Regions from separate parts of the Homo sapiens genome. Here all the other regions are linked to region 4. Evidence: fine-mapped QTL for protein levels in blood plasma. Region 4 holds a variant in brackets. A gene starts in each other region. All regions are shown on their reverse strands.

What was found. PIP is the chance, under the fine-mapping model, that this variant and not a neighbour inherited with it causes the effect. The UK Biobank Pharma Proteomics Project read protein levels with antibody pairs (Olink). The fine-mapping took linkage between variants from a reference panel, not from the people measured, so its PIPs are less certain.
Region 1: it holds the start of THPO, and the variant in region 4 is fine-mapped to the plasma level of the THPO protein (UK Biobank, PIP above 0.99).
Region 2: VSIR starts here. The variant in region 4 is fine-mapped to the plasma level of the VSIR protein (UK Biobank, PIP above 0.99).
Region 3: SERPINE2 starts here. The variant in region 4 is fine-mapped to the plasma level of the SERPINE2 protein (UK Biobank, PIP 0.93).
Region 5: it holds the start of SCARF1, and the variant in region 4 is fine-mapped to the plasma level of the SCARF1 protein (UK Biobank, PIP above 0.99).
Region 6: it holds the start of PPBP, and the variant in region 4 is fine-mapped to the plasma level of the PPBP protein (UK Biobank, PIP above 0.99).
Region 7: it holds the start of COL2A1, and the variant in region 4 is fine-mapped to the plasma level of the COL2A1 protein (UK Biobank, PIP above 0.99).

Annotation. Positions count from the first base shown.
Region 1 is chr3:184,376,493-184,380,910 of GRCh38, reverse strand. It overlaps THPO (thrombopoietin), which reads left to right and starts at 2,704. Exons shown (of 6, transcript NM_000460.4): 1 at 2,704-2,836. It overlaps CHRD (chordin), which reads right to left and starts at 857. Exons shown (of 23, transcript NM_003741.4): 1 at 445-857; 2 at 116-219. The coding sequence starts at 592.
Region 2 is chr10:71,771,784-71,775,783 of GRCh38, reverse strand. It overlaps VSIR (V-set immunoregulatory receptor), which reads left to right and starts at 2,264. Exons shown (of 7, transcript NM_022153.2): 1 at 2,264-2,426. The coding sequence starts at 2,345. The region is part of intron 38 of CDH23 (cadherin related 23); the gene reads right to left. RefSeq lists silencers at 2,035-2,364, 2,385-2,464.
Region 3 is chr2:224,037,251-224,041,720 of GRCh38, reverse strand. SERPINE2 (serpin family E member 2) reads left to right here and starts at 2,435. Exons shown (of 9, transcript NM_001136528.2): 1 at 2,435-2,622. LOC124907991 (a long non-coding RNA gene) reads right to left here and starts at 2,319. Exons shown (of 2, transcript XR_007088103.1): 1 at 2,179-2,319; 2 at 1-3. RefSeq lists a silencer at 1,975-2,269.
Region 4 is chr8:105,567,343-105,571,812 of GRCh38, reverse strand. The region is part of intron 4 of ZFPM2 (zinc finger protein, FOG family member 2); the gene reads right to left. Among named protein-coding and RNA genes, the nearest start is that of ZFPM2, 250 kb to the right of the region's middle. The variant T/A (reference allele first, on the strand shown) is at 2,513.
Region 5 is chr17:1,643,386-1,647,855 of GRCh38, reverse strand. It overlaps SCARF1 (scavenger receptor class F member 1), which reads left to right and starts at 2,124. Exons shown (of 11, transcript NM_003693.4): 1 at 2,124-2,259; 2 at 2,617-2,678; 3 at 2,921-3,022; 4 at 3,889-4,414. The coding sequence starts at 2,159. It overlaps RILP (Rab interacting lysosomal protein), which reads left to right. Exons shown (of 8, transcript NM_031430.3): 6 at 1-21; 7 at 867-950; 8 at 1,237-1,706. The coding sequence ends at 1,414.
Region 6 is chr4:73,985,957-73,990,340 of GRCh38, reverse strand. It overlaps PPBP (pro-platelet basic protein), which reads left to right and starts at 2,151. Exons shown (of 3, transcript NM_002704.3): 1 at 2,151-2,385; 2 at 2,689-2,824; 3 at 2,967-3,902. The coding sequence starts at 2,238. The coding sequence ends at 3,069.
Region 7 is chr12:48,002,068-48,006,537 of GRCh38, reverse strand. COL2A1 (collagen type II alpha 1 chain) reads left to right here and starts at 2,062. Exons shown (of 54, transcript NM_001844.5): 1 at 2,062-2,301. The coding sequence starts at 2,217.

The DNA of each region.
Region 1 (4,418 bases), not on the chromosome of region 4:
TCCCCAACATCTGCCGACTGGGCTCCTTCTCAGCAGCTCCGAGTCCACTCCGACGCCCGCGCGACCCGGCGCTCCCCACCCGCCAGGGCCCGGGCCGGCCGCGGGGTGCACTCACCGCCTCGCAGGCGCACAGCACGCAGCGCATCACCCCGAATGGCTCCCCTAGGTCCGGGTGCCACGTCTCGTCCAAGGCATAGACCTTCCCGCCGAAGGTGCAGCCTGCGGGGACGGGCTTGGCTGGAGGCCGCTGCCCAGCTCGCGCCGTGTGCCGCCCCGGGGGCTGCCCGCGGGTCCCGGGTCCCAGGCACCGCGCCCTTCTGCCCCCGCCCACCCTCCGGGCCGCCCGCCGCGCCGAGCCACCTGCGCCCCGCGCCCCCTCCGGGCTGGCGCTGACTCGCCCCGAGCCCGACTCCCCGCCCGCGCCTCCCCCGGGCGCCCACCTACCTGCCGCTCCCCGAACGGGCAGCGGCTCCTTCTCAGAACGGATGGGCAGCACGGGGGGCTCTGGGCCGGCGCCGCGGGCCGGCCGGGAGCCGAGCAGCAGCAGCCCGAGGAGCAGCAGCGGGGCCGGCGGGGCCGGGAGGCTCGGCATGACGCGAACGGGACAGCTGGGGAGGAGGGAGGGAGGAGGGCGCGGGAGCGGGCGGAGGGAGGGAGGCGGGAGTGCGGAGGGCGGAGGGCCGGGCCGGGGGCGGTGCGGCGGGAGGGGGCCGGGGCCGGGGCCGGGGCCGGGGCAGTGCCGCGAGGGGCTCGTCGGGCGGCCGCAGAGTCGGCGCCGGGCCGGGCGGGGCGGGAGGAGCGGCCGGGAGGAGCGCGGGCGGGCGGGCGCTGACCCGGGCCGTACGCGGCTCTACTGCCCCGGGCGCCGGCTCCGGCCCGTTTTATGCCCCGCGCCCGACGCCCCGGCCGGGGGCCTCCTCCTCAGCAAACGGGGCGGCGGCGGCAGCTCGGCGAGGGGCCGGGCTGAGCCCGGGGGGTCCGACCCAGCAGCAGCGGCCCGGATCGCGGGTGGGGGAGGGGAGGGAGGGGCTGGGACCGGGCAGGGGAGGAGGGAGGGGCGGGAGGGGAAGGGGGAGCGGGGGAGGGGGAGGGGAGGGACCAGGGGGCGCGAAGAGGGGGAGGAGAGGCGGGCCCGGAGCCCCCCGCTGCTGGCGGCCACAGGGCGGCTGGACCAGGAGGTCGGTGTCCAGCCCAGGAAGGGAGCCTCAGGCTAGGGAGGGGCAGAGGCTAGGCCTGAGGCCTGGACCGCTCTGTGAGCGAGGACCCGGTTCCGCCCGAAGGATGAAGACTTGTCTTTAAAGATGACAACGTACAGGAAAGGTCCATCAGCCGATCTCCCCCTGCCTGGGCCCACAGCGCCCCCCAAACCCTCACCACCCTCTCTCACTGCCTAGCCTGCCTCCCTACCTTCTCTCTGAGGTCGCTCCTCATTCTTGTGTTACCCAGGACAGGGACCTAGCCAGAAACCGGCAGCATTCCCCCTTCTGTGGAGTGACAGTATCTCCCTCTCATTGTAACTTATCCTCAGGCGCATTCGACAGTCCCCTCTTGCTTTCTCACCCCCTTCCTTCACCCAAGGGACCCTCTGCCTCTCCAGCCCACTCCCAGCCTCCTTTCTCTTGGTTCCCTGGTCATGCCTGCCTCCCTGTCTCCTGTCTCTCCCTCCCACACACACCCACTATCCTCCCAGCTATCCCAGCACCCTCCTTCCTAATCTTGGGAGACATCTCGTCTGGCTGGACGGGAAAATTCCAGGATCTAGGCCACACTTCTCAGCAGACATGCCCATCCTTGGGGAGGAGGAACAGGAGAGAGCCTGAGGAAGTTCTGGGGGACAGGGGGATGATGGGATCAAGGTCAGGCCAGGAAGCCCCTGAGGACAGAGACTGTGGGGAGACTGGGACTGGGAAGAAAGCAAAGGAGCTAGAGCCAGGGCCAAAGGAAAAGGGGGGCCAGCAGGGAGGTATTTGCGGGGGAGGTCCAGCAGCTGTCTTTCCTAAGACAGGGACACATGGGCCTGGTTATTCCTCTTGTCACATGTGGAACGGTAGGAGATGGAAGACGGAGACAGAACAAGCAAAGGAGGGCCCTGGGCACAGAGGTCTGTGTGTGTAGCCATCTAAGCCACTGGACCCCAGCAGACGAGCACCTAAGCTCAGGCTTAACCCAGTGCACGTGTGCGCACATACATGTGCCCCGCACCTGACAGTCCACTCAACCCGTCCAAACCCTTTCCCCATAACACCAACCCATAACAGGAGATTTCTCTCATGTGGGCAATATCCGTGTTCCCACTTCGAAAGGGGGAATGACAAGATAGGACTCCCTAGGGGATTACAGAAAGAAAAGCAGGAAAGCAAGCATCCTGTTGGATTTCAGCAGCAGGTATGATGTCCAGGGAAAAGAAATTTGGATAGCCAGGGAGTGAAAACCCCACCAATCTTAAACAAGACCTCTGTGCTTCTTCCCCAGCAACACAAATGTCCTGCCAGATTCCTCCTGGAAAAAAACTTCTGCTCCTGTCCCCCTCCAGGTCCCAGGTTGCCCATGTCCAGGAAAAGATGGATCCCCCTATCCAAATCTTCTCCGTGGTGTGTGTGGGTGGAGGAGTGGACCCTGGTCCAGGCAGGGGCTCCAGGGAAGAGAAGGCGTCACTTCCGGGGGCCTTCACCAGTGTCTGGTGGCTCCCTTCTCTGATTGGGCAGAAGTGGCCCAGGCAGGCGTATGACCTGCTGCTGTGGAGGGGCTGTGCCCCACCGCCACATGTCTTCCTACCCATCTGCTCCCCAGAGGGCTGCCTGCTGTGCACTTGGGTCCTGGAGCCCTTCTCCACCCGGTGAGTGGCCAGCAGGGTGTGGGGTTATGTGAGGGTAGAAAGGACAGCAAAGAGAAATGGGCTCCCAGCTGGGGGAGGGGCAGGCAAACTGGAACCTACAGGCACTGACCTTTGTCGAGAAGAGTGTAGCCTTCCCAGAATGGGAGGAGCAGGGCAGAGCAGGGGTAGGGGGTGGGGTGCTGGTTTCTGAGGGACTGATCACTTACTTGGTGGAATACAGCACAGCCCTGGCTGGCCCTAAGGAAAGGGGACATGAGCCCAGGGAGAAAATAAGAGAGGGAGCTGCACTTAGGGCTTAGCAAACACAGTAGTAAGATGGACACAGCCCCAATCCCCATTCTTAGCTGGTCATTCCTCGTTAGCTTAAGGTTCTGAATCTGGTGCTGGGGAAGCTGGGCCAGGCAAGCCAGGGCGCAAGGAGAGGGTAATGGGAGGAGGGCCCACTCATGTTGACAGACCTACAGGAAATCCCAATATTGAATCAGGTGCAAGCCTCTTTGCACAACTTGTGAAAGGAGGAGGAAGCCATGTGGGGGGTCCTGTGAAGGAACCGGAAGGGGTTCTGCCAAGGGGGCAGGGAGGCAGGTGTGAGCTATGAGACAGATATGTTAGTGGGCGCCTAAGACAAGGTAAGCCCCTAAGGTGGGCATCACCCAGCAGGTGCCCGTTCCTGGGCAGCTGGTCTCAGGAAGGAAGTCCCAGAACTGTTAGCCCATCTCTTGGCCTCAGATAATGGAGTATTTCAGGACTTGGAGTCCAGAGAAAAGCTCCAGTGGCTTTATGTGTGGGGGTAGATAGGGAAAGAATAGAGGTTAATTTCTCCCATACCGCCTTTTAATCCTGACCTCTAGTGGTCCCAGTTACAGCTTTGTGCAGTTCCCCTCCCCAGCCCCACTCCCCACCGCAGAAGTTACCCCTCAACATATTGCGCCCGTTTGCCAGTTCCTCACCCAGGCCCTGCATCCCATTTTCCACTCTCTTCTCCAGGCTGAAGCCACAATACTTTCCTTCTCTATCCCCATCCCAGATTTTCTCTGACCTAACAACCAAGGTTGCTCAGAATTTAAGGCTAATTAAGATATGTGTGTATACATATCATGTCCTGCTGCTCTCAGCAGGGGTAGGTGGCACCAAATCCATGTCCGATTCACTGAGGAGTCCTGACAAAAAGGAGACACCATATGCTTTCTTGCTTTCTTTCTTTCTTTCTTTCTTTCTTTTTTTTTTTTGAGACGGAGTTTCACTCTTATTGCCCAGGCTGGAGTGCAATGGTGCGATCTCGGCTCACCACAACCTCCGCCTCCCAGGTACAAGCGATTCTCCTGTCTCAGCCTCCCAAGTAGCTTGGATTACAGGCATGAACCACCACACCCTGCTAGTTTTTTTGTATTTCGTAGAGCCGGGGTTTCACCATGTTAGTGAGGCTGGTGGCGAACTCCTGACCTCAGGTGATCCACCCGCCTTGGACTCCCAAAGTGCTGGGATTACAGGCATGAGCCACTGCACCCGGCACACCATATGCTTTCATCACAAGAAAATGTGAGAGAATTCAGGGCTTTGGCAGTTCCAGGCTGGTCAGCAT
Region 2 (4,000 bases), not on the chromosome of region 4:
TGAAAACAAGCACAAACACATGATGGAGTGTGCAGGCTGCAGGGGCTGGGAGTGGAGAGTTTGAACAGAGTTGGGCCTTGGAGCCCCTCCTGCTCTGAGACCAGGTCTGGGCTTGGGGAGGGAAGGTGGGTTTGACTTCCTCTGGTCTCGGAGGGAGGAGAAAGTCAGTGCTCCAAAGGCCCTCTCAGCTGAGCCCTTCCTGTCCTGCCCTGGTGTTGAGGAAACAGTGCTTGAGGTTTCTGGACCATGGTCCTTGGGCAATGCCTGTGTCTCACCCTGATGCAACCCCAGGAGGCTCAGTGGTGGGCAGTGTGGTAGGGAGAAAGGAAGTGAAAAGGGGGGAGGGAACTGGGCCCAGCTCAGAGGCTCTATCCCCCTGGGGAAGGGGTTGGCAGGGCAATTGCTCCCCTTTCTCTAATTCCAGGCCCTCCCCGGCTGCTAGGCCCTGGGGAAGAGGGAGTCTGGTTTCAAGGGTGTCCTGAGCAAAGCCAGTCCAGGAAGGGTTGAGATGGGGTGGTGCTCTAGGATCTTGCCCTTAAGGGACCCCCCTCACTTGCCAGAGGATGTCAGGGTGAGAAGGGCCCGGTGTCCACCTGATCTCAGTTGGCTTTGTACCTCCCCTGGTGGAAGGGAGCTCATGCTATGCCAGCAGGAAGGGCCCTGGGCTGCCTTCCAAGGTGGGGTCACAAGGCCAGGAGCATGCCCAAGGACCTGGGTTATGTCCTGCCAGCCTCTGGGGCTCCCATCCTGGGGAGTTCACTGGCTCCAGGGGGACTGGGCCTGCACAAGTTCACTTAGTAATAACATGATGCCTCAGCCTTCCTCTGTTGTAGCCTTCCCTGCCCTTAGAGCAAGGGCTAAGGGCCTCCAGAGAGCCCGTGACTTGGATCAGGCCACCCACAAGGCCCCCAGGACTCCTGGCTCCCATTGAGTCCTGATACCCTGGTTCCTGACCCAGTCAGACTCTGAGTGTCCTCTGCCTCTCAGCCTAGGAGTCACCTATTAACCCAAGATCCCTAAAGTGCCAGAAAAACCCCTGGAAGCTTCAGCTAGACTGGGGTAAACTGAGTAAAATGGCTGTGCTCTTCCACTCCTGTGATCCCTGGTCCTGGCCACGATCACCTCTGCTCCTCCATCACACAATCACTCACTCACTCATTGGTTTGTCCATTCAGATAAAAGTGCAGTAAAACCTTCTCCACGCCCAGCTTTGTGCTAGGGTCTCAGAAACATCAGAGAGAGGTTTGTAGTTTCGCTCTGGAGGGCAGAACAGCCGGAAGAAGAACCAACTGCTGGTTATCTCAGGCTGGAGGTGGTAGCTGAAGGGGGTGTGGACAGTAAGGATTTGCCGGGAAAAAGGAAGGGTCAGGACATTTCGTGAAGTGGGAGGACTTGAGCTGAGCCCTGAGGGATGAGAAGAATTAGGAGGGGAGAGACATTCCAGTGGTGCCAGCAGTGCTGGGTGTGGGTGCAAGAGCAGAGGCACTAGAAGTTAGGGTGCATCAGAGTGTCCTGCAGATATCCAGGCACCAGGGAGGGAGGGCGGGTGCACAGCCAGGCGGACAGCTGAGGCCTCTGCCGGAGGGGAGCTTGCAGGATGTGCTGTGGGGCACGCCAACAGGTGTTGCCTGCATATCTGTGTGTGTCCCGGGGTAGGGATGTGCTGATCTTGGCGTGTAGTCCTGCACCTGTTCTGTGTGTGTGTGTGTGTGTGTGTGTGTGTGTGTGTGTGCGCGCGCGCATGCACTCAGGGTGCCTCAGGCTCTGAATCTACAGTTAAACTGGCTCCAGCTTGCCTAGCTCTTCACAATGTCAGATTTCATTCATTCACTCATTTACTCACTCATTCCACAGCTGGGAGTGCCTACCACATACCAAGCCCTGGTCTGGCTGGAGGATGTAGGGTACAAGTCTCTGTCCCCAGATCACTCAAAGGCTGGTGGCTGAGGGCAGATGCAAGCCATGGTAACGTCTATCACGCTGTTAGAGGTAGATCTACTTCTTAGGCTGCGCAGCAATAATAATTTCTCTCCAAAAGGACTGGGGGACGGTAGAACGGGCTTTAAACTGCCGATCAAGTGGAGCTGACTCGCTGGGACGCACGCTGGCTCCCCACCCACGGGGCCGGCCTCCGGGAAGCCCCTCCCACGCGGCCCTCGGAGAGGCAGTTCCCCCACACGGCCCCCCGGGGGCGCTGCGCGAAGGGGGCGGGTGCCTGGAGCACGGCGCTGGGGCCGCCCGCAGCGCTCACTCGCTCGCACTCAGTCGCGGGAGGCTTCCCCGCGCCGGCCGCGTCCCGCCCGCTCCCCGGCACCAGAAGTTCCTCTGCGCGTCCGACGGCGACATGGGCGTCCCCACGGCCCTGGAGGCCGGCAGCTGGCGCTGGGGATCCCTGCTCTTCGCTCTCTTCCTGGCTGCGTCCCTAGGTAAGGTCGGGGGAGGCGGGGCGCTGGGAAAAAGCTGGGAGAAGACAGCAGACTGGAGTGGGAACTGTGGGATGGGGGCGTCCTGGGGGCCCTCTCAGCCTGTGTGACCGTGCACCCCACTCCACCCACCGCCCAGAGGCTGCTGGGACCCCTAGGCAGGGTGCAGTGGCAACTGTGCCAAGTGCCCCAGCTAGGCATCGGGCACATCTGCATGCTCTGACAGCTGCCCAAGTGGCAGGCAGGGCTGTCCCCTGAGGGCTGCCTGTCCAGCCCTTCCCTGCCCAGAGAACCCAGGGCACAGGTAGCTTCTGCAAAGAAGGAGAGGCACAGGGTGGGGGCGGTCAGTGTGTTCTGGTGGATATCACTGGCTTTTGACAGCTGGCATCTTTCTGCCCCTCTAGTCTCAGGGCTCTAGTGTTGCAGAGGACACAGAGGGCGTGGTATGCTCAGCCAGTGCCCCATGCCCTGGTGAAACCCCTGGCTGAGCCTTGGTGGGCACTGGGCACTGGTCACGGTGGGTCCACTTTCAGACACAGAGGCAGCACTGCCCACCTGGTCCCTATTCTAAGGGTCTGATGGCCCAGGAATAAGTGGTCAGCTGATTCCTGCCATCCTAGCAAGGCTGCCACTCAGGGACCAGTGTGGAGTACTGGGGAGGATGTGGGACACTCTTCAGCTCAGCTATGAGCCCCTTCTGGGTCCCTGGATAAATTACGGCATCTCTCTGGCCTCAGTTTCCTCAGCTCAAACACAGAAGCCCACACAGGGAAGCACCATTTTCCCCTTCCAAAGTCCAGACTGTCAGCATGTTCAGATAGTATCCTGGCCCCAACACAGGGGCTCCCGGGCTGGGGGCAGAGGCCCTGGTACCCATGGCCTGGTTGCCTAGTTCTTGCCTGCCCAGAGCTGAAGAGGCTGGATCTCTTCAAAGAGCCTGTGGAACCAAACTTTATAGGGAGGGCCCAGGGAAAGTATGAGTCATGCAGGGACTCGGAGGGAGGCAGGAGGGAGGTGGAGGGCTTGGCACAGGGACCCAGTGGGCAGGATGGAATAGAAGGAGAGGGTGATAGGATAAGAGGGAGAGGAGGAGGCTGAACCTGGAAGATACCTTAGCAACCTGGGTGCCCACAGGCAGCTGGCTATCTCAGCACTTGGAGGCTGGCCTGGGCCTCTGAGGAGGAGGAGGGCTCCACATGTCACAGACACAGCTGCCCTAAGCCCCAGGGTGGATGCTTCTCAAGGTGACAGTCAGAGGGAGGAGGAGAATGGGAGGTGGAATGGACAGTCTCAGCACCAAGGCCATGGCTCATGGCAGGGCATGGCTTCCAGAAGGAACAGAGGATGGTGGCAGGCAGGCAAGCCAGCATCCCACCTGTCATGGGCCACCTGCCCTGCACTGCCCTCCCTGGTGGCCCTGTGAGACCCTTCCTGCTTTCTTGCCCACTTCCTGCCCTCACTTGGCTGGGCTGCCCTCTGTTCAGCAGCCCCAATTTGAGAAACATTTCTAGAGATCCAGGGCACAGGGACCCAGCTTGCAGAGCACCCAGTAGCAGAGAGGCCCCAAGAGGAGCTCA
Region 3 (4,470 bases), not on the chromosome of region 4:
TGTCTAGCGAGAGAGAAGGGAACATTAGTGTCTAGGCTTACTTTAGCATATTAGTTAGCACTGCATCCACTGTGATTTCAGAATTGACAAGTCACGTACAGTATTGCTCAAAATGTTCCTTCGACACTACAGGAAAGAATGGGGAAGTAAATGTCAGTCATTAAAGTGTAACCCAAAGAGGTAAGTCCTAAGGACTTCTAACGTCTTTCATAGATGAAGAATTTGGACCCTATTTACACTCTAATTGGGAAAGCAAAAAAGGCTTGTTGTTGTTTTTTCTTGAAAAACATTGGCTCCTTCAAGACAAGAGACTGAAACTCTTCAAAATAGTAATTTTGTGCATTTCTCTCACTGGTTTGAGTAACTTTAGTAAAAATTTAAAGTTACACATAATTAACCAAAGTGTGTGAGATAGGAATCAACGTATCAATGTTAATATCCTGATTGTGATATTATACAATGGTTTTGCAAAATGTTACCATGAGGAAGACTTGGCAAAGTGTAAAAGAGACCTCTCTGAATCATTTCTTAACAACTGCATGCCAGCCTACAATTACCTCTATTACAAATTTTAATTTAGAAATGTGATTGAGACAGAAATGGATGCAGGGATTCTGGCACATTTTCATAATAATCTGGCTTCACCCACATTTCCCAGTTATTTCTCCAGTAGTTTCTTGAATGACTCCCTTCCATCTGGAAGAGGATACTCCCAGCTTTTCAAACACACTGAACGAGCTCATTCACACCTGTGGGCTTTCCCCCCTCCTTTGAATTGTTCCCAGCTCCAGCCCACACCGCCCTGACTGGACCAAGCACAATACTGTCACTGAAACAGTTCTTAGCATGTCTAAAAGTCACTTGGCTAGTAGTTCATCCACTCGTCAACAAAATTTATTGAGTAACTGCTATATGTGTGGTATGGCTCTAGGCACTAGGGATAGAGTGAGTTGGAAACAATATTGAAATTAGTTTCTCTTCCCTGGTCTCTGGGAGTATATTCCAATGAGAGAGAGTAGAAGAAAACTAGCAAGAAACAAGGTAAAAAAAAAATCAATTCATGATGAGGGTTATGAAGGAAGTCATAGGTTAGAGGGGATAAAGTGACTTTATCTCAAGTGGTCAGGGGAGGCTTCCTAGGGGAGAGGACATTTGAGTTGTGACCTCAAGTGTAAGGATGCAGACAACATAGAAGATCCTGGGACAAAAAGCATTTCAGGCACAGAGAATAAGAAAGTTACCCTGTAACTGAATATAAATATTTGGTATGACTGTAAAATAATTAAACAGATGCTCATTTTTGTAGACTGTTTGCTCCTTATTTTAGGACCAAGCCTCCCATAGCCTGTTTCCCTCTATGAGAGACTGAGAACACCCTTAGGCTGGTCCAGATTTTACACTTTTCAGAGCAACCCCTTCCCCAACACACACGTGCACACTCTGGCACGGCCACCTGCATGCCAAGGGGTGACTGCAGGCTGATCTTCCAAGTGGCTCTCATCAGTAGCTGTACCCTTAATCCAGGGCTGTGTATAGGGAGATTTACATTTCTTCCTCGCTGTTGGGGCCGTCTGCCTGCTAGCGACGATTCTACACTAACGGCTACATAAATTACTGTCATTAAAGTTGGGTCCTTGGGTCCCCAGAAACCTAACTAGAGGCAAAGGAGGAACCAACTAAGAGAGGTCCAGGTAACAGAGCCCGGAGCGGGACGGTCATTTGTTGCAGGCCCCTGGGGTATGTGCCTGTCTATCGCGCACCGGGTCCCAGCAGCAGTGGTTACCGGCTGAGAAGGGCTGGGTTCCCAGGACGCTGCGGGTACCTCATGCTATCACCATAGCCGGGAATCCAGTTTTCTGGTTCCCCTCGTCTGTATTTGCCTAAGGCGACTTGCCGCCGTTCCTCTGTCCCCTAGGCAGGGAGAAGTCAGCTCTAGGACACCCTGCAAAACGCCTCGAGGGGTTATCTGCCCCTTCCCGGCCGCGTCCTGGCACCGTTTCCCCATCACCCGGAGGACTGAGCGCTGTCTCAGGGCGCCCTCTGTCTCTTCCAGGGGGCAGCCAAGACGACATGCCCTGCGTCTCAGGGACGCGGTACGAGCCCTGGTATTCCCCCCGCCACCTCACACACCCCCATCCGGGAGACCCACGTGCAGCTGGGCCCGGGCTGGCGCCGCACCTCGGGGTCTGCGCGTCTCCCCGGCGCGTTCCGGGCGCAGCCCCACGACACGGACCCCTGGCGGGGCGGCATCCGAGAAGTCGCAGGCGGAGAGGGGGCGTCCTGGAGGCCGGGCGCGGGGACGCTGCGGCCCGCGGCCACACAAAGGAGGCGGCGGGAAGGCGGGGCAAGGCGGGCCGGGGGCGGGGGCGGCAGGAAGGGGCGGGGGCCCGCGCGGCGCCGCCGATAAAGCCCCCGCCGCCGCGGCAGCCAGCTTGCGCTGTGGGGCTGCCCGGGCTGCGCGGCGTCTGCAGGCGCCACCGCTGCCTCTTTCCGGCTGTGACCCTCCTCGCCGCCGCCGCTTGGCTGCGTCCTCCGACTCCCCGCGCCGCCGAGACCAGGCTCCCGCTCCGGTTGCGGCCGCACCGCCCTCCGCGGCCGCCCCCTGGGGATCCAGCGAGCGCGGTGAGTACAGGCTGCGCGGTGAGTCCCGGGCGCGGCCGGCGCTGCCCTCGGCGGGGGACGCTCCCCGGGGCTCCGCGCGCCACCGGCCCTGCTCCCTGACCTTGCGCCCGGCCGGGAAGCTGCGGGGCCAGCGGGACCCTGGGGCGCCGACGTCGGGGAGCAGAGAACTTTCTCAGCCTCCCGCGGGCCGCCTTGGCCGGGGCTGGGTGCTCGCCGGGCATCCCGGTCCCGCCCGCCGGGAGCCCCGAGCGGGACCCGGGCAGGGCAAGGCGGGGCCGCCCCGGGGTGGCGTCCAGTGATACCCGCAGCTGGGAGCACCGGGGCCGGCGTGGCTCCTGCCCGGCCATCCGAGCCGGCCCTGACCCTGAACCTGAGGTTTCCAGCTGCTCGCCGGCAACCCCTACCCCGGACTTAGGCTGCGCGCCGCCGGATGGGGAGAGACTGGCGCACTCTTACTTGTTACCTCTGCCTGGGCAGAGGGAGGTGACGCGCGGTGTGGGGAAAGCCTTTAACTTGGCCTCTGGCAGCCGATTTAACCCGAGCGAGCAGGTCTTTGCTATTTTCATCATCTGTAGAAACGGGAGTTGCGAGGCGGATGAGTGACTGCAGGTAAAATGAAAGTACGGTACTCAGAAATTCTGGAAGGAATTAGGCATTTAATGTGTCCACAAACTGAGCGGGGAAGGAAGGCTTCTATTACATAAGACAGCACTCCACCTTCAGGTATTATGGAAGATGCTGTTGAAGGTTTTAGTGTTTTAATGAACGAAACACATTCTTTGTGTGTGTGTCTCTGGAGAAATCTCGAATGCTGCTGTCTTGCTTTGGCTACTTTGCAGGGGACGTTCTTATATTTAGCATCAGCATAAAAAGGTGTTCGAAGGTGTGACTTCCTCTTTCAAGCCAAGAAGCCGTTTATTTGTCTGAATTGTTGTGGAACAATATATGTGATAATTGTGTACTTTGAAGATTTTATATCAAAACTTGAGCACAGATAACTGGAAGAATTGTCAACATTGCTAATTTGTATATCCTAAACCACACTTCGAAAATTGAAGACAGTTTCAACACTATCTGAAGGTCTAAATCAGTACTTATTTGCTATTTGCAGTATTTCAATAGAAAAATTTTTGGCTATGCAAATGAAGGTACTAACCTGAGTAATCTAAGGTTTCTTTTAACCCCCAAATTTTGATTCTTTGTTAAAATAATGTTTGAAAATATCGTACCATGCAGGGCAATTACTGAAGGTCATGAAAATGTCATCGTATTTTATTCTAAAAACAAAAATGAATCTATGCAGAAAATTTCCGTGTCCCATGAACTTCATATTAGTTTAATTTTAAAAGTACTGTCTCCAAAAAAAGCTAATTTTCACTTCCACACAAGGGTGATTAAATACCAGTCAGAGATTGTTTGAGGTGGTAGAGTTGGAAATGAGGTGGTGACCTGGCCACGTCCCTGGGTGCATCTCAGCCTTGCTGTCCTCTTCCAGCCAGTTCTTTTCCCATCGCATGGGGACTTTGGCTCTTGGGCTATTTCTCCTCCTCTAGACCTAAAGTCCATGTGGGGGACGCTCTAGATGCGCACTTCCTTGACTGTCTCAAATCCAGTGTCTTCCATGTACTCCAGCTACCAAGTCCTCTAAGTACCTCCAAGTCTTGCCCTCTCTTGAGATGCTCAACTTCTGAAAACTCTTAGTGCCTCCAACCCGCAAGCTCCTTCCTTCCGGGTTGCAAACCGGACTCCCACTGTAATCTTCAATGCAAGCGATCTCCAATGCTTTTCCTCTTGCGGGTTTGGCAGGTGACTTTGTAGCCCATTCTACCAGGAGAATAGAGGTCATAA
Region 4 (4,470 bases):
TATGTTATCAGAGTTTGACAAAGCATTATCCCTAAGTAATTTTGATTTTTAAGACCAAACTGAAGGAGTACAAACTGGTACCTATCTCCATTCTCTCTGTTATCATCTCCAAGTTACTGAATGTATTAATTGTCATGTCAAGCTGAGATTGATGCTAAGTCCTCATAATGCTGGCACAATATTTGTTACAACCATGTAAGCATATCCTGCCAAACTAATTGTTTTGAAATCAGTATAGAATGACAATTCCTCAAAAACATCAAATAGAAAGAATTTAAAAGGCATGCCAGACCTATCAGCACATAACAGAGGACAGTTTGGTCAACTCCATGAACAACTCTTCCTCACAGTGCTTTGTTACTTCTACCTTCCCCTCCAGGGAAAACTACATTTCAAGATTGATATTTTAGAATTTGTGTTACAAAAACAATAGTTATGCTTTACAAACCACTTCCTCACTAGTCAAGATGGTGATAGATTTCCCTAGAGAGGCAGGGATGCTATATATCCACCCACTTCCACCTTAGGCCTTCATGATTCTGTTTTTGGCAAATACGAAGAAATGACAGTAGCAATGAAATCTGCATTAAGAAAATTCATGTAAGGATCCCTATGTGTGGGAACAATCACAACTCCCACAAACAGTATCTGGAGCTATAAATCAATAGTGATTCTTCATCCTTCACACCGATCCTCTGTGGGAAAAGGTTATGTGACTCATTTGTCTCAACTTTACACACATAGAGTGGATCAGCTTTGATCATCTTATGATGACATAAACAATTCCTCCTTTCAGAAATTAATTAAATTAATAGCACTAATCGTCCTAATAACTGAAAAGATCATCTTCAACAAAAGTTCTCCTTGGAGTTCTGGGAAAAGGGAACAATGAATAATCTTGTAAAAATAATTCTTTTTAAAAGTTCAAACTTGGCCTAACTAAGGGTAAATAGGTTTAGCCATATAAACCAAAGGCCAAAATGTATTAAAATTTCAGGCAGAGGAGAGTAAGTTAGGTCCATAAATAAAATTGTCTATGTATAGCAAGGAATTGTGTTTCCACCTTTCAAATCCAAGTCCAAATGTAAAGAACCTGGAAAGACTTCACCATCAGGAGAAAAAGTAAGTCAGGATGAGATTGAGGTTAACAGGCTAGCTATACACAAAAGGTATTATTTTGGAGGCAAGTAAAAATTATCAGGAAGGGCACAAATTCAGGTTTTCATTTCAATACCATTGTGCCATATGACAATGTATTTTCATCCACTGCCAACATCATAACTATATCTGCATTATAACACAGCAAATCCCTTCAGATTAATATGCAATTGACCTCTCTGGCTTCTACATATTTCAATTGTGAAATAATTCTTCGGTGTTTAATTTCTTCCTTTCTGACTCACATTCAATAGCAGGCCTTTGATTACTGAGGCCTCCACACAAACTTCTTTCTCCTCTTTCCCTGAGTAATCCCCCTCCATCAAAAAAAAAATAAATAAAAATAAAAATCAATAAAACAACAAAAACCCTACCCTAATTCTAGAAACCAAACCAACGCATCACTTTCCAAGGCTCTGCTGCATTACATTTCTTGCCTTCAAGTCTTCTTTGAGCAGCTTTTCTGTCCACTCAGTTTCCATTAATTCTCCACATAGCAGATAGAGTATAAGAGAAGCCAGGATCTTGCCCTCCCTAAGGGACAAATCTACAACCTCCATCAATAATGAATTTCACCAATGTTTCCCAAGAGGAACAGGGTACAATTAAAAAGGTTATAAGTCCTTGCACTACTAGAACCTAAGGGCGTCTGTGAATGAAACTGGCTTAAGCCCAATTAGAGGAATCAGTACATTTGTCTTCTCTTGGAACAATCTTGCTCTTACGGTTCCCATCAATTCAGTATAAATCTGACTGATCTTATCCAAGAAGTTAATAGAAAATTGCTCACAGTGGGCGACTGCCACCTCAGTTTCCAAGCAGAGACAGATGGAATTTCCCAGATGGTTTGTCACTGGAACGTGTGAGGCTGGATGAGACTTCACAGAAAGCATGGTAGAGCAGAACACCTTCTTGGCCTTCACCCATGTCATAGTGAGGGATCTAAAACTGAGTCTGTTGTAAACAAATCATAATTGCCTCACTAGGCGCAACACCTCATCCTCCTAGCTGCATCCAAGGGTTGCAAATCTTACACCGAAATTAGTCAACTTTTCTCAAGAAACCATCATGGGCATATCTCCTTATGAGATAAAAACTGAAGAAATAGACATAGTTATCTTGTCCTACTGAAGTTTCCTCTCAAACGAGACTAAAATAAAAGTGCAAGTCTATAAACAAATAAAACAGGTACAAGATAGCATTTCCTGTGGTAATTGCTCTGCTGAGTTAGGCAGATGAAGCAAGATCACAGACGAAACAGACATGGATGTAAAGCCTCAGGAAGGATGCAGGGTCTTGAATAAGGAGGGGTGTGCAGCTGTTCCTGATATGGAGAAAAGTGAAAGGAAAAAAT[T/A]AATGTGCTGATTCATTCAATGTTATTCATTGAGCTCTTAGTATAAGCTAGACATTGTTCTAAGTGGGAAGGATAGAAAGATAAAAAATAGATAATAAGCATATGGTCTGCAGGGGAGATAGACAAGCAAACAGGAGCTCACAGTTATGTGATCAGTGCTCTTATCCTAGTAAACCTAGAGCACCAGGGAAATACTCCAAGAGTGGTTATCTATTCCAGACAGGAGGCTTCAGAGAAGGTCTACCTTGGAAGTGACTTTGAGCAGAGTCTTTAAATAAGTATTGGACTTAGTGAGATGAAGAGAGATAGGTGGGGAGGGGGGAATAGGGGTTTCCAGGAGGATAAAACAGCATGACCAAATGTACGGATGTGGAAAAAAAATGGACATTCAGGGCACTGCATGTAGTTCAGAATGCCTAAAGTCTATAAGAGAGTGGAAAAGGGGTCAGAACTGGGGAGGTGAGCATCACCTGGGGAGGTGAGTAACAGGAAGGCCTTTTTTAGGCTTTACCAAAACCTTGGGGTATTCTCGTGCCCTTTAGAATGATTTTAAAGCACAGGAGTTAAGTGACTACTGTAGTTTTGCTTTCAGGACATACTGTGGTCTGAGTAAATAAAAAGATGACAAGAGAGAACAGAAGAATATTGTAATAATCAAGAGAGAAGCGGTGGGGCTTTCGACTAAAGCAGTGGTAGCAGGACAGAAAGAGGAGAACAATCATTACGAAAGCAGGAGTTATGATGCTTGGTTTCTGGACATGAAATGGAGAGTCTTGGAAGATGTTTGACTCTGAATAGAAGGAAAAAGAGATGGTAGTAGTTACAGGCAAAAGGAGAGAGGTATGGGTATGTGTAACTGTGTGTGAATAGCATTTGAGATGTGAGAAGGAGAGGTAGAAATGCAGAAAAGACACAGGATAATTGAGAGAATGGACTCCCTGCAGAGGTACGAAAGGAGAGGCAGAGGACTAGGATTAAAGGTGACTGAAAGCTGGAAGTCATGGAAAAGAGAGGCTGTCTGTGGAGACAGGAATAAACTCTCTTTGTGACTGTGTAGTTGGAGGAATTAAATGGGAAAGCTTGCAAAACAGTTGAAATGTGCTATTAGAGAAAGGGTAAAAAGCCAAGGTTAGAGATTTTTTTATTTAAATGTCATTTGTAAATTAGTAGCTGAAGCTTTGCAAGTGGATAAGCTCCCTGAGGCACTGGGAACAGAGGGAGAAGAGAAGAAAGGCCAGAAGTGTTTTGGGAAACACTCACAGTTAAATTAAAAAGAGCTAAGACCCAGAGAGATATGAGAAATAGGAAAGTATGGTAGTCCTGAGCCCAGATTAAAATGAATATTAAGAAGGAAGATATCATTCACAATGTCAACATCAATGAAATCTGAGGCTCAACAAAAAGTCATGCCTCAGCAAAATTATAAATTATGCCATTGAGATGGGAAAGATGGAGAATATGGGTGGAGTCAGTGAGAATGTTCCTGATAAGCAAATTCAATTCGATTAGATTTTTATTTTAAAGAGCAGTTATTGAATACCGATTATGTACCAGTAGTAGAGGTCCAAAATTGAATAATAAAGATTAAATAATTCTATGTCCTCTAGAATCTCAATAATAATTTGGATATTGCTTTTAAATTTATTTCATTATTACATCTTAGAGGCTGTCTTAGTATGGATTCCCCAGAGGCTTACCCTGAGACTGATTCAAATACAAGTAGTTTACTGGGAAGTTGATCCCAGAAAATTCCAGTAAGGTTGTGGCGAAGTAAGCAGGAAAGGGAAGAGGTCCACAAAATGTTCACTATCAAGGCAATCAGAGCTCAATTCCACTGCCAAACTCTAACAGACAATATAGAACACATCTTATATCCTAACCAAGAGGAAGGGAAGCGGAGGTGTTAGTCCACCAACTTTCTGTCCATCATTGGTTGAGGATAACCTTTGGGAATAGGA
Region 5 (4,470 bases), not on the chromosome of region 4:
ACCAGAGGAAGCAGAGAGCAGGTAGGTCCCTGCCTGCATTCCCACGGAGCCAGGCCTCCCTCCCTCATTCTGCTGAGCCTGATGACCCAGCCTGGTCACCCTCTGAGCCCATTGTCTCAGACTGAGGCTGTCACCCCAACCCGGTCACCCCTTGAGCCTCCCTAGCCTGGCCGCTTCTAGGGCCTGCTGACCTGCTCTGGCTGTGTCCCATGGCCGCTGTCCAGCCTGCGCCCTTCTCCCTGGATCTCACCACTCCCCTTGCCTTGCCTGCCATCCATTCTGCCTGACAACACTGCCTCTCCACATTCATTCTTCAAGTTCCTGTCTTGGCTGGGTCTGTTTATTCTTACGGGGGTGAAACTGTAGCCGCGGCTGTGTCAGGGCCTGCTGTGTGTCAAGCTATAAAATAAACCCTTGGCAGGGCGCGGTGGCTCACGCCTGTAATCCCAGCACTTTGAGAGGCTAAGGTGGGTAGATCACCTGAGGTCAGGAGTTCGAGACCAGCGTGGCCAACATGGTGAAACTCCGTCTCTACTAAAAATACAAAAATTAGCCGGGCATGGTGGCATGTGCCTATAATCCCAGCTACTCAGGAGGCTGCGGCAGGAGAATCGCTTGAACTTGGGAGGCGGAGGTTGCAGTGAGCTGAGATCGCACCACTGCACTCCAGCCTGGGCGACAGAGTGAGACCCTGTCTCAAAAAAAAAAAAATTAAAAATTAAAGGCTCGACATCCTGCATCTCCCCAGGGTTGCCTTCTCTCCAGCCCCGGGGGCCCTGCAGTCCCTCCATCCCCCCTGCTGGATTCCTGTTGTCCCTCAGGGCCTTGATCAATGGCCCTCACTTCTCCTCTCTCCTCTGTCTCAGTGAGGATGAGGCTGGCCCATGGATCCTGCTCTCCGATGACAAGGGAGACCATCCCCCACCCCCGGAGTCCAAAATACAGAGTTTGTATGTTGGGGAAAGGGGAAAGGCAAGAGTGTGGGGAGGGAGGAAGGGCCCTGGCTGGTCCTTCTCAGGATCCCCTTTCCCGCTTCTCTGCCCGTCACCCTGCTGTGCTTGGCTCTAAGCACACCGTCCCCTCCTGCTTCTCTGGCCCTGGCCCCCATCACCTTCACACTCCCTCAGGCTGCCCTTTCTTCCCCCTCTCCCCTTTTCTCACCATCCCCTGCCCTCACCCATATCCTTGACCTCTCTGGCTTCCTGGCTCAAAGTGCCTCTGGCTGTCTCTCTCCAGCTTTGGCCTATGGTATCGGGGTAAAGCTGAATCCTCTGAGGATGAGACCAGCAGCCCTGCACCCAGCAAGCTAGGGGGAGAAGAGGAGGCCCAACCACAGTCTCCAGCTCCTGATCCGCCCTGTTCTGCCCTCCACGAACACCTTTGTCTGGGGGCCTCAGCCGCCCCAGAGGCCTGACTTAGGGGTCTGGCTGTGGAAGGATGTGTGGCCTCAAATGAGGACAGGGCTCCCGCCTTCACAGCCCTCGCCAGGGGTCTGCCCCAATCCTGGCCTGCATCAGGGCAGGACGGGGTCTCAGCCCGCCTCCCTCTCTACGTCTCTGTACCGAGCCTCTGGGGCCAGATATAAGAGTGCCTCTCTGAGTCTCAGTTTCCCCATCCATGAAATGAGAGCTGACTGCCTAGCTCCCAGGGCTTTGTGCAGACGGCCTGAGCTCATGTAATAAAGAACTGCCCGTAATACACAGAAACTGTTCCTCGCCTGTCTGTCCATGTCTGTGCCACCTCCCAACCCTGCCAGGAGCAGAGGCAGGCTGAGGGGTCCTCGCTGGTCTCCTTGCTCAGTCACTGGGTGGGGTGGCTTCTTGCAGCTCAGGCCTTGCTTTGGGAGTGTGGCCTGATGGAAAGCCGTGGCTCCCAGCCTCAGTCCACCCCCTTCCCTGGCCCCGGCACCCAGGGACCTGCAACTTCATTCTTCTGGCCCTTCCAGGCCCAGGCCAGTCAGCCCTGCCATTGCCTTTCTTTCCCTTTCTTTTTTTGAGTGTCAGTCTTTCCAGCCACCCCCTCCCTCTCAGGGAGGTGCCTCGTGGCAGCCCGCCCCTCCGGCCTGGTTTCCTCAGGAAAAGCCCTGAGAGGAAGCAGGGAGGGGGTTGGGAGCTGTGGGGGCCAGACGAACCCGAGCGCTCCCACCGAGCTGCCTGCCATGGGGCTGGGGCTGCTGCTCCCGCTGCTGCTGCTCTGGACTCGGGGGACTCAGGGGTCCGAGCTGGACCCCAAAGGGCAGCACGTCTGTGTGGCCAGCAGGTGGGTCTCGTGGGAGTCTGATGCGTGTGGCCAGCAGGTGGGTCTCGTGGGAGTCTGATGCGGGTGGCTGAACCGGTGTTGAGGCCGTTAGGGGAAGGAGGAGACTAGGAAGGGGGCTTAGGCTGAAAGGAAGGGACTGCTGATGGCGGTCTGGCAGGTAGTGGCCAGCCAGGGCAGATGGTGGAAGGGTCAGGGAAGGAGAGGGGAGGGGCTGGGGACCCTAGCTGTAAAGATCCATTAGGCCTCCCCAGGGGGCTAAGGCAGCCTCCCCCACTGCAGCCAGAGACAGTGATCCACCTTCCTCAGGGCCAGGCTGCACCCCCCACCATGTCCGGCTGACCCCTTTTTGCCCCACAGCCCCTCTGCTGAGCTGCAGTGCTGCGCAGGCTGGAGGCAGAAGGATCAAGAATGCACCATCCGTGAGTAGCCAGGACAGACCCTCAGCCAAGGAGAAGGGAGGCCGTAGCCCAGTGACAACCCTTCCTTCCTACCCCATGGGGCCTGCCCCTCCTGATACCAGGAGTCAGGGTTTCTCCTGTGACGCACCCCCAGGCCTGAAGGGGCACCTCTTGAGGAGGCATGGCCCCTGGAGCCAGTGAGAGGGCAGGGGTGTCCCCTGGTCCTGCTCCCGTCTTTCCAACCTGGGTGGGGTGTCTTTCAGCCATCTGTGAGGGGCCGGACGCCTGCCAGAAAGACGAGGTGTGTGTGAAGCCGGGCCTCTGTCGATGCAAGCCTGGATTCTTTGGGGCCCACTGCAGCTCCCGTGAGTCTCAAGGGCCAGATGAAGTTGCTGGGCAGAGCTGGGTACGGGGGCAGTGGTGTGGGAGCAGGCGAGGCAGGTAGCCATGCAGCCTCAGGACAGCAGGGCCAGAATCCCCCCCAGCTTCACTGAGGAATTGCGGTCCAGAGACAGGAAGTGACACACACTCCCGGGAGATGACCTGAGTCACCGGGTTTTTACCCACATCCACAAAGCACTGCCCACCTGAGCATCTTCCTCTTCCACTTCTCAGAAAACCTGTGATTCCCCTTCATTGTAAAATGAGTGTATTACTTGCCTTTCCCACATATACCTTATACATGGGCAGTGGATGGAAGGGGGCCCCTGGCTGGGCTCTCTGCCCTCTCTGGCAGAAAGAGAGGGAAGGGAAAGGGGTTGGGAAGCAGGAGAGCCAGAGGGTGGGCATCAGGAATCAAGGAATCACTAGGGGAAAGGTGGCTTCTCCCGACACCCTGGCGGGCAGTATCCAGGCCTGAGATCAGGAGAAAGCCAGCTCTCCTCCAGCCCAGCAGAGATCCATCTCGGCAGGGAGGAGCAGGCATGGAGGAAGGCCCACCAACCTCGGTGCCACGCTCTGGGCAAGTCCCCTGCCCACTCAGGATCTCTGAGTGTGTTCTGGAATGTGAAGTGGCAGGCTGAGCCTCCCACTAATGGCTAAGGGTTTTCTGTAGGTCAGAGCGGAGCAGGAAGTGAGTGTTGCCCAGGACAGGCTGCCGGATGTTCTGAGGGTCTGTCCCCGGCTCTTGGAGGATGGGCCCAGCGCCCCTTTTCCTTGAGGAAGGGGACGCAGGGTAAGGGTCTGCGCGCGGCCCTGAGCCCGCTGACCCCTCCCGTCCCCACCCCCGCAGGCTGCCCGGGCCAGTACTGGGGCCCCGACTGCCGTGAGAGCTGCCCCTGCCACCCGCACGGCCAGTGCGAGCCAGCCACGGGCGCGTGCCAGTGCCAGGCCGACCGCTGGGGAGCCCGCTGCGAGTTCCCGTGCGCCTGCGGCCCCCACGGGCGCTGCGACCCCGCGACCGGCGTGTGCCACTGCGAACCCGGCTGGTGGTCGTCCACGTGCCGCCGCCCGTGCCAGTGCAACACCGCGGCGGCGCGCTGCGAGCAGGCCACGGGCGCCTGCGTGTGCAAGCCGGGCTGGTGGGGGCGCCGCTGCAGCTTCCGCTGCAACTGCCACGGCTCCCCGTGCGAGCAGGACTCCGGCCGCTGCGCCTGCCGGCCGGGCTGGTGGGGTCCCGAATGCCAGCAGCAGTGCGAGTGTGTGCGGGGCCGCTGCAGCGCCGCCTCCGGCGAGTGCACCTGCCCGCCCGGCTTCCGCGGAGCGCGCTGCGAGCTGCCCTGCCCGGCAGGCAGCCACGGGGTGCAGTGCGCACACAGGTGAGCGGGCGGGGCGGGGACAGGTGGGCTGGCGGGGCGGGGGCGGACACAAGTGA
Region 6 (4,384 bases), not on the chromosome of region 4:
TCCTCATACCAGAGTTGTCTTCTTTTTCATTGGAGGGTACAATACCGAAGTTAAAATCATTAGCTACAGATTACAGCATACAGGCTAAATGTCTACATACAAAACAATCAATAAAACTTTTTGTTTCAGCTAAACTTAGAAATAAATCATTGTCCTATTTAGTGTCAGTAGGTTCTACAGTAATTAGTACATCAATCATTTGAGGAACTCGTAATAAAATACTTTACTCAGAGATAGAATGTCACCATCAAGTCACGAAACCTTTCCAGGGCGAGTTAATTTGGAAGTCTGCTTACTTCTAAAGTAAACTGTCAAATGTGGTCTGTAGGTTATCGCATTTAAAAACAGGACCTGAGAACTTGAGTAGACATAGTAGATAACTATTAAACAATAGGGAAAATTGGCTTGAAAACAAAAACATGATTTAAAAAATTACTATATTCATCTTTTTGATAGAGAGTAATTTTGAACATTTAGTATTTTAAGCATTTCTTCTAAAATTTAAGGATATGAAAAGTAAGAAAAGAATATGGAAAATTTAAATAATATTCTGTGAGACTTATACATAGTTGTAAAAGGAAGAAAACTTGTTGCCAGTGCCACTTACATCTGCCTCTTCTTTATTGACAATCTTCCAAATAAATTTAAATAGCATAGTTGCTTTGGGTCCTGTCGAGTTTGGCCTGGAATTGTAGGTGATTAGAAAGGATAGGGAAGCTTTCATGTGATACGTATTCATTGATTTATTAATTATTTAAGACCTACTTTATATTGAAGTATCCTACATGTTATAGGATACATGAGACATTCAAACAAACACAGGACATGCCACTCCCTACAAAAGTGCATGGTTCAATTGAGGAAGGAAGTCTTACAGATGGGACAGAGAACCAGAAAATAACATAAAGCCAACATGTAATGTGTAGGTCCACCTCTCTATCTTTGTAGGGATATAGCATTTCAGACCAAAACCTTTAATTTGGGTCTGAGAATTCAGGAACAAATATTTTCCTTGGTAAGGACATTTCTTGCACAATTTCTAATAGTGCAAAATTGGAAACACCGTGAAGGGCACCAACAAGGCAAGGTTGAGTAACTATTGTTCTTATCACAGGACGTCACATGGTCATTAAGAAGAATGGGGGAAAACTACATTAAGATGACCTGAAAAGATAAGGAACACATATTTTTTGAAGGATAAAAGTCAGCTGTATAGTGATCCATATACAATACTTCTATGTATATGTGTACCTCTATGTCTTAAACGTGTCTCATTGTATACATATACATGTGTGCATATAAGTGCAGACAGAATTGAAAACTAATGCAAAATTGTTACCAGTGTTTACCACTGAATAGTAGGAATGTGGAGAAATGATGAAGAGAAATTTGTGTTTTATTTCAAAGACATCTGCAGCATACGAATCTTTTGCAATAAATTATATAATTTTTCTGTTAAATTAAAAATAAAAAGAAAAATAAATATGCTGGGTCCTACTTTTTAGGTATTCTTAGGTGGTAGAAACAAGTAGCTTCTTTTGTAATATAAAGGAGGATGAGTTTCATTTGTAGTTTCTAGATGAAATTACAAAAGATAATATAGATTGAAGGCAGAAAGAATCCAATAAGCTAAAATCCAAAGACAACCTTTGACGGTAATTGGCTCTTATTTTACTTACATGCTCCAAACCAATCCCAATATTTATCAACATTCATGAAAAGAACATTTGCTTTCTTTGGCAAGCAAAGATAACTTTCTCTTTCAAGGGCCACATGTTTGTGCCTTCAGGTGCTCCTAAAGTTTCTATTAAGCCTAAAAACTGCAGTATAGAAAAGGCAGGGCGTATTGTTATAAATCATACAAAGAAAATGCATGTAGTATTTCAGTCTAGTTCTTACCTTCCTGAACGGAGTTCTTACACAGGTGTAAGGAAGATAAGTATTGAGAAAGGGAGAGTGGGAATGTGAAGTGATGCACATTAAGCAAGTTAGTAGGAATTTGACCTGTCTGGTCTTTCTCTGGGTTGGGCACAGCTTCAAATGCTTATGTGTGTATCACCACATACCCTCACTTCCTCCTTTCCTACCTCTTCCTTCTTACTGGCTTTGAGAAAGAGCATATAAATGACATCTTCAGGGCATGAGAAGCCACTTATCTGCAGACTTGTAGGCAGCAACTCACCCTCACTCAGAGGTCTTCTGGTTCTGGAAACAACTCTAGCTCAGCCTTCTCCACCATGAGCCTCAGACTTGATACCACCCCTTCCTGTAACAGTGCGAGACCACTTCATGCCTTGCAGGTGCTGCTGCTTCTGTCATTGCTGCTGACTGCTCTGGCTTCCTCCACCAAAGGACAAACTAAGAGAAACTTGGCGAAAGGCAAAGGTAGAGGCCCTGCTTCTCTGCACTTGTTGCTGCTTCTGCTACACCTGTCTCTGGGGTAAAGACTAGCTTGGTGCCTTTGGGGCTGGAGAGGGCCATTATACCAATAACTCCAATTGGAGGAGACACACAGGGGGGTCACTTCTCACTTCTTGTGTGCTGGGCAATCTTCTGGGCACTTTACTAAAGCGTTACAGATCATATTCACAATGGCTTTATGAGAGAGGTACAATTGCCCTCAATCTGCAAATAAGAGACCTGAGGAAAATATTCATGACCACCAATAGGTCACATTTTCTACCCTAGAGGAAAGTCTAGACAGTGACTTGTATGCTGAACTCCGCTGCATGTGTATAAAGACAACCTCTGGAATTCATCCCAAAAACATCCAAAGTTTGGAAGTGATCGGGAAAGGAACCCATTGCAACCAAGTCGAAGTGATGTAAGTTGCTGTTTCTGTGCTATTGCCTTATCAGAGAAACCCTCTACCTCCATCCACATATGCACTCGTTTCCTCCAGTCTCATGGATTAGTTCTGATATTCAGATCAGGACACCCACAGATAACCCTGTTCTCTTTTGCAGAGCCACACTGAAGGATGGGAGGAAAATCTGCCTGGACCCAGATGCTCCCAGAATCAAGAAAATTGTACAGAAAAAATTGGCAGGTGATGAATCTGCTGATTAATTTGTTCTGTTTCTGCCAAACTTCTTTAACTCCCAGGAAGGGTAGAATTTTGAAACCTTGATTTTCTAGAGTTCTCATTTATTCAGGATACCTATTCTTACTGTATTAAAATTTGGATATGTGTTTCATTCTGTCTCAAAAATCACATTTTATTCTGAGAAGGTTGGTTAAAAGATGGCAGAAAGAAGATGAAAATAAATAAGCCTGGTTTCAACCCTCTAATTCTTGCCTAAACATTGGACTGTACTTTGCATTTTTTTCTTTAAAAATTTCTATTCTAACACAACTTGGTTGATTTTTCCTGGTCTACTTTATGGTTATTAGACATACTCATGGGTATTATTAGATTTCATAATGGTCAATGATAATAGGAATTACATGGAGCCCAACAGAGAATATTTGCTCAATACATTTTTGTTAATATATTTAGGAACTTAATGGAGTCTCTCAGTGTCTTAGTCCTAGGATGTCTTATTTAAAATACTCCCTGAAAGTTTATTCTGATGTTTATTTTAGCCATCAAACACTAAAATAATAAATTGGTGAATATGAATCTTATAAACTGTGGTTAGCTGGTTTAAAGTGAATATATTTGCCACTAGTAGAACAAAAATAGATGATGAAAATGAATTAACATATCTACATAGTTATAATTCTATCATTAGAATGAGCCTTATAAATAAGTACAATATAGGACTTCAACCTTACTAGACTCCTAATTCTAAATTCTACTTTTTTCATCAACAGAACTTTCATTCATTTTTTAAACCCTAAAACTTATACCCACACTATTCTTACAAAAATATTCACATGAAATAAAAATTTGCTATTGACTTGTTGTCATCTATTATTAATTTTAACAGGATTGTTGGGGAAAAAAAGCTTTAATTTTCCTCTCTTTTTTGTATACTTGGTATTTCACAGTTTGAACAACAAAAGTTACTAAATTGATGATCGGTGTCATTCTTAATGTAGTATGATAACAGTTCCAATTTATTAATCATTTTAATATGCCAGGAATACTAAGTGTTTTCCATGCATGAACTAAACAATTTTTTAAAAGATAGATATGATCTGGTTAAAAGAACATCCTCTGGAGTTTGAATAATGAGGTAACCTGGCTCTGCCACTTGTTAGCTGTGTATATCAGGTCATGTTGCTTAATTTCTCTGTACCTTAGGTTCTTCATCCCTAAAATGGGGATAATATTGCCTCCCTCATAGAGTTTATGGAAGGATTAAAAAAGTTAATAAATTTAAGGTATTTAAAATAATGTGTGTCATAAATAAGCCACACATAAATGTTAGTAATTATT
Region 7 (4,470 bases), not on the chromosome of region 4:
AGTCAGTTGTATAAATGCCTTTATAGTTGTATCTAAATTATTAGTCCACAGGGGCTTTCCTAACTCCTATGTGTTAGAATTGTGCTAGGCACAGTTCTTGTCCCCAAGCATCTTCCAAGCTCATTGATGAGATAAAGACCAATGGATATAAGGGGAAAAAATTAAAACTACACAAAAACATATGTAGCTTAGGCTATAAATGCCAGGGGGATTCAGAAAGCCAGGGAGACGTTGTGTTCTAGAGATATCAGAGAAGGCTTCTCAGAGGGGCTTTAACCTAGGAGGTCTTGATAAATGTGTGGAATTTGGTCATTCTATCTTCCAGGTAGAGAATATAGGACCTTCTGAGCCCCAAAGAGGACATGGGGCACTGATGGCAAGAGACCAGCTTTCTTCTAGCAGAGATTGGGCCTGAGGAAGAGCCCAGAGCTTAATGCAAGCCCCTGAATGGGAGCATGGAGACTCAGACAAGGCCCGTGGAAGGTAGGGGAGATGCTGGAAACTGGTTGAATTCTTCCCCATCTCCATCCAGACTGGACAAAGCCTAGAAGCATTTCCTTCAACAATGAGTTCTTTCCCTTTCCAACCAGAGCACTTGGAACTCCAGCCTCTACCAGGACAAGTGTCAAAGCATGATAGGCTAGGGATGGGGTCCCAGGACCCCTGGTGGAAGCCTAAGGCCCAGAAGTAGCTTCTTTCAAGTGCTCTCAGCTTCTAGGGGGAAAGCTCCAGAGAAACAAAACTGCCCAGGAGGGCAGAAGTTCTGGTTAAGTCAGACCCCAAATTCTGAGTTTCATTTTGCCTATAGTTCTTTGGGGGACCATATCGCTCAAAAGGAAGGTCTGTTTGGGGACGTTTCCTCCCTGGTATGAAAGGAGGCACCGGAGACCAAGAGAAGAGACCAGCTAAGCCCTGGGAAGAAGGCAGTTTGGCTAAGGTGAGAGAGGGCGCTCACCGGGGAAGGTGAGGTGAGGCGGCAAGCGGAGGGCTAGGGGGCCGACTGGGAAATTCTGGCGCTTCTCCCCGGCTCACAGAACTCGCCAGCTGGATCGGCCTCCCCGATCCCTGGCCAGGGCCGCAGCAGTGACCAACCGTCCCTGGCCAAAGCTGCTCTACGACGGCCGGCAGTGCCCACTCCCCGGGGGACTCCCGGACCCCAGCCAGGAAGAGCAGACACCACGTCTGAGCCTGGAGCTAGACAGTCCCCCCACAGCAGGCAGCTTGCACCGTTTAGTCTCGGCTCCCTCCGTCCTCTGTGGCTCTTTCAGTCCCCTTCCCAGGGCCTGCCCCTGCCCCCCACACCTTCACACAGGTCTCCTTCTGTGCAGTAACACACCAGCTCTTTTCCTGGCTGTCGGCTCAGGCCAACTTCGGCCTGTGCTCCAGAGGAAGCCTTCAACGCAGAGCTGGATGGGGGAGGGGTGGAGGGCAGTCGCTGTGAACGTCCAGGTGGGAGTCTGGGGACCAGGTACTGCAGGGAAGGGCTAAAAGATAGGTCGGGGTAACCCTTCAGATCTGGCTCAGCTAGCCTGTCTCCAAGATTTAGGACTCTGAATCTCTGTGGGCTCCTCCCTGTCCCCACTCCCAAACGCCTGACGCGGTGCCCCCTCGCCCTCCGCTGCTCCTTTCTACCGCTTTCCCTCCTCCCTCCCATGTCTTTTCCGTCCTTGGTCTAGGGCTCTCGGCCTGCGCCTCTGCAAACACCCCCTCCCCTCCAACTCCGGCAGAACTCCGAGGGGAGGGGCCGGAGGCCACCCTTCCCGCCTGTGGTCAGAGGGGGGCAGCGCCGCAGCCCCGGGTTTGGGGGGCAGGGGCCATCTCTGCGCCCCGCCCGATCAGGCCACTCGGCGCACTAGGGGTGGAGGGCGGGAAGCGTGACTCCCAGAGAGGGGGGTCCGGCTTGGGCAGGTGCGGGCACTGGCAGGGCCCAGGCGGGCTCCGGGGGCGGGCGGTTCAGGTTACAGCCCAGCGGGGGGCAGGGGGCGGCCCGCGGTTTGGGCGAGTTCGCCAGCCTCGAAAGGGGCCGGGCGCATATAACGGGCGCCGCGGCGGGGAGAAGACGCAGAGCGCTGCTGGGCTGCCGGGTCTCCCGCTTCCCCCTCCTGCTCCAAGGGCCTCCTGCATGAGGGCGCGGTAGAGACCCGGACCCGCGCCGTGCTCCTGCCGTTTCGCTGCGCTCCGCCCGGGCCCGGCTCAGCCAGGCCCCGCGGTGAGCCATGATTCGCCTCGGGGCTCCCCAGACGCTGGTGCTGCTGACGCTGCTCGTCGCCGCTGTCCTTCGGTGTCAGGGCCAGGATGTCCGTAAGTCTTCCCCCGCCCCTGCCTGCCTGCCTGCTTTCCATGCGTCCCTCAGCATCCTTCTCCCCGGCCCGCTCCAGCTCTGGAGCCCGCGGCTCCGGGCTAAAACGGCTCCCGGGGTCGTAGCGCGCCGACTTAGGCACAGGACACGCAGAAGTTCACCAAGAAGAGTTCTGCCAATCAAGGACTCTGTCCCAGGGTCCTCGGTGCCCATCGCAGTTGCAAGTATTTGCAGGTCCCTACGTTGCGCTAGAATACTGAACTTGCAAAGTGTTGGCTCGGAGAAGTTTGCGCACAGATATAAATGGGCTCTTTTCCACCAGCTTTGATAATTAGGCGCACATGCACACAGCTCGCCTCTTCGAAGCACTTCGAGTTCAGCAAAAACAGATCTCAACTCATCGAACTTAGGTGAAGTAGGAAAGAGAGAGCGCGAGCGAGGGAGCAAGCAAACGCCAAAGGGTTGACTTCACAGCCTGTCCAAGGCTTGGTGGCTGGTGGGCTCAAAGCAGAGTTAGACAAAGGGGACTAACACTCTGACACTGGTGGGCTGAAATCCCAGGCCACAAAGAACGGCTTCCGATAGGCCCTCTGAGACCTCAGCGCCTCTTTAGGGTACCCTCCCCCTCCCAGCTGGCCCTGGAGCAAGGTGCAGCCCTAGCGCTCATCTCGACTTCCCTCCGTCCGCCTGCGCCTCTCTTCTGATAAAGGGTACAGAAACTTCCAGTAGGAGAGGCCATCTGAAAGACGATAACATTCCAACCAGACCGTGCTTTTCAAATGCCCCCGAAAATAGCGCCCCCTTCCCCGCGGTCTTACCCCATTCCCCGCCGCCCCGAGGTACTACAATGAGTTACTTTTCTAAATTCTGGAACTCACCGAGCCAGGCTGCGTGGTGTGTGTGTGTGTGCGTGTGTGTGTGTGTATGTGTGTGTCAGGGAAGGGGAGCAGGCTGGTCGATTGCTACGGTTGCTACAACTATTTCAACCGGTATAGTTAGAGATGGCTCTTGTAGTCGGGTCCAAATGCTGTTCGGACTGCACCTTTCTACCCCTCCTTTGGTAAGGTCCACTGTCTGGGATTATATTCAGGACAAACGAAGCCTGGAAAGTGTATTAGGTAGAGAGGATTTTTTTTTCCACGTGTTTGGGCACGTTTCCGACGGCTGGGATTCCAGCCCTGTCTTTGTATGTTACAGATTGTAAATCAATCGCAGAGGGAAACTCTTCGGCGGGGGGAATAAAAGTTCTCTGCCTTCGAGGCTCTGTGGGCCCTCTCCTGCCACCAGGCTGTTTCCAGGGATAGCGTGGAAGGCGGCGGGCTCAGGCGGGCTTTCCGGTCATTAGCGCAGCGGGGGCAGGGCTGGAGCCTGCGGCGCAGCTGCGAGGAGCCGGGAGCAGGAGACTCTGGCCGGGTCACCCGGTAGTGCGCTAAGCTGGAGGCGCGCTCCTGGGCATTTGAGGAATACAGCGTGACTATACGTGGCCTGGACTCAGACTGACTATATTTTTGTACTACATTTACAAGCACACGCCCACAAAGCTGTCTTCTTGACTGACCCCTGCCTTAGTGCGCAATGGAATTAGCTGGGTGGCTTTAAAATAATTCTCAAATTCTCCATCCGGTATTAGGGTCGCTTGCTTAATTAGGCGGTAGAGCTCTCTCATCGCCGCATCTTTCCTGGGAGGGAGTGATTCCACAGCTTCTCCGGCCCAAACCTTCCAGTCGCTCCTCCTCCCAGAGGGAGTGTGATTCTGCATCCGAGAGGCTGATTTTGCGCCCTGGAGCATCCCACCTTTTATAACTTCCCCCGCCTGGGGTCAGCGGACCCAAAGGTGTGACGTGGGGAAATGCGCAGTCTGCGTGGACGTCAGGAATGTCAGACACCTAGAGCTCGGCCACACCCCTCCTCTCCATCTTTCCACGAGTTTGAGAAACTTACTGGCGGCGGCGTCTTTGACCCTCATCTGCATTTCAGAGCCCTCGCCTCCGAAAGTGCCCCTGGCTCAGGGGAGAGATCTCAATCCTCCTTTGTGAGGCTTGTTTGCATTGGGAGATTGGCAGCGATGGCTTCCAGATGGGGCTGAAACGCTGCCCGTATTTATTTAAACTGGTTCCTCGCGGAGACCTGTGAATCGGGCTCTGTGTGCGCTCGAGAAAAGCCCCATTCAT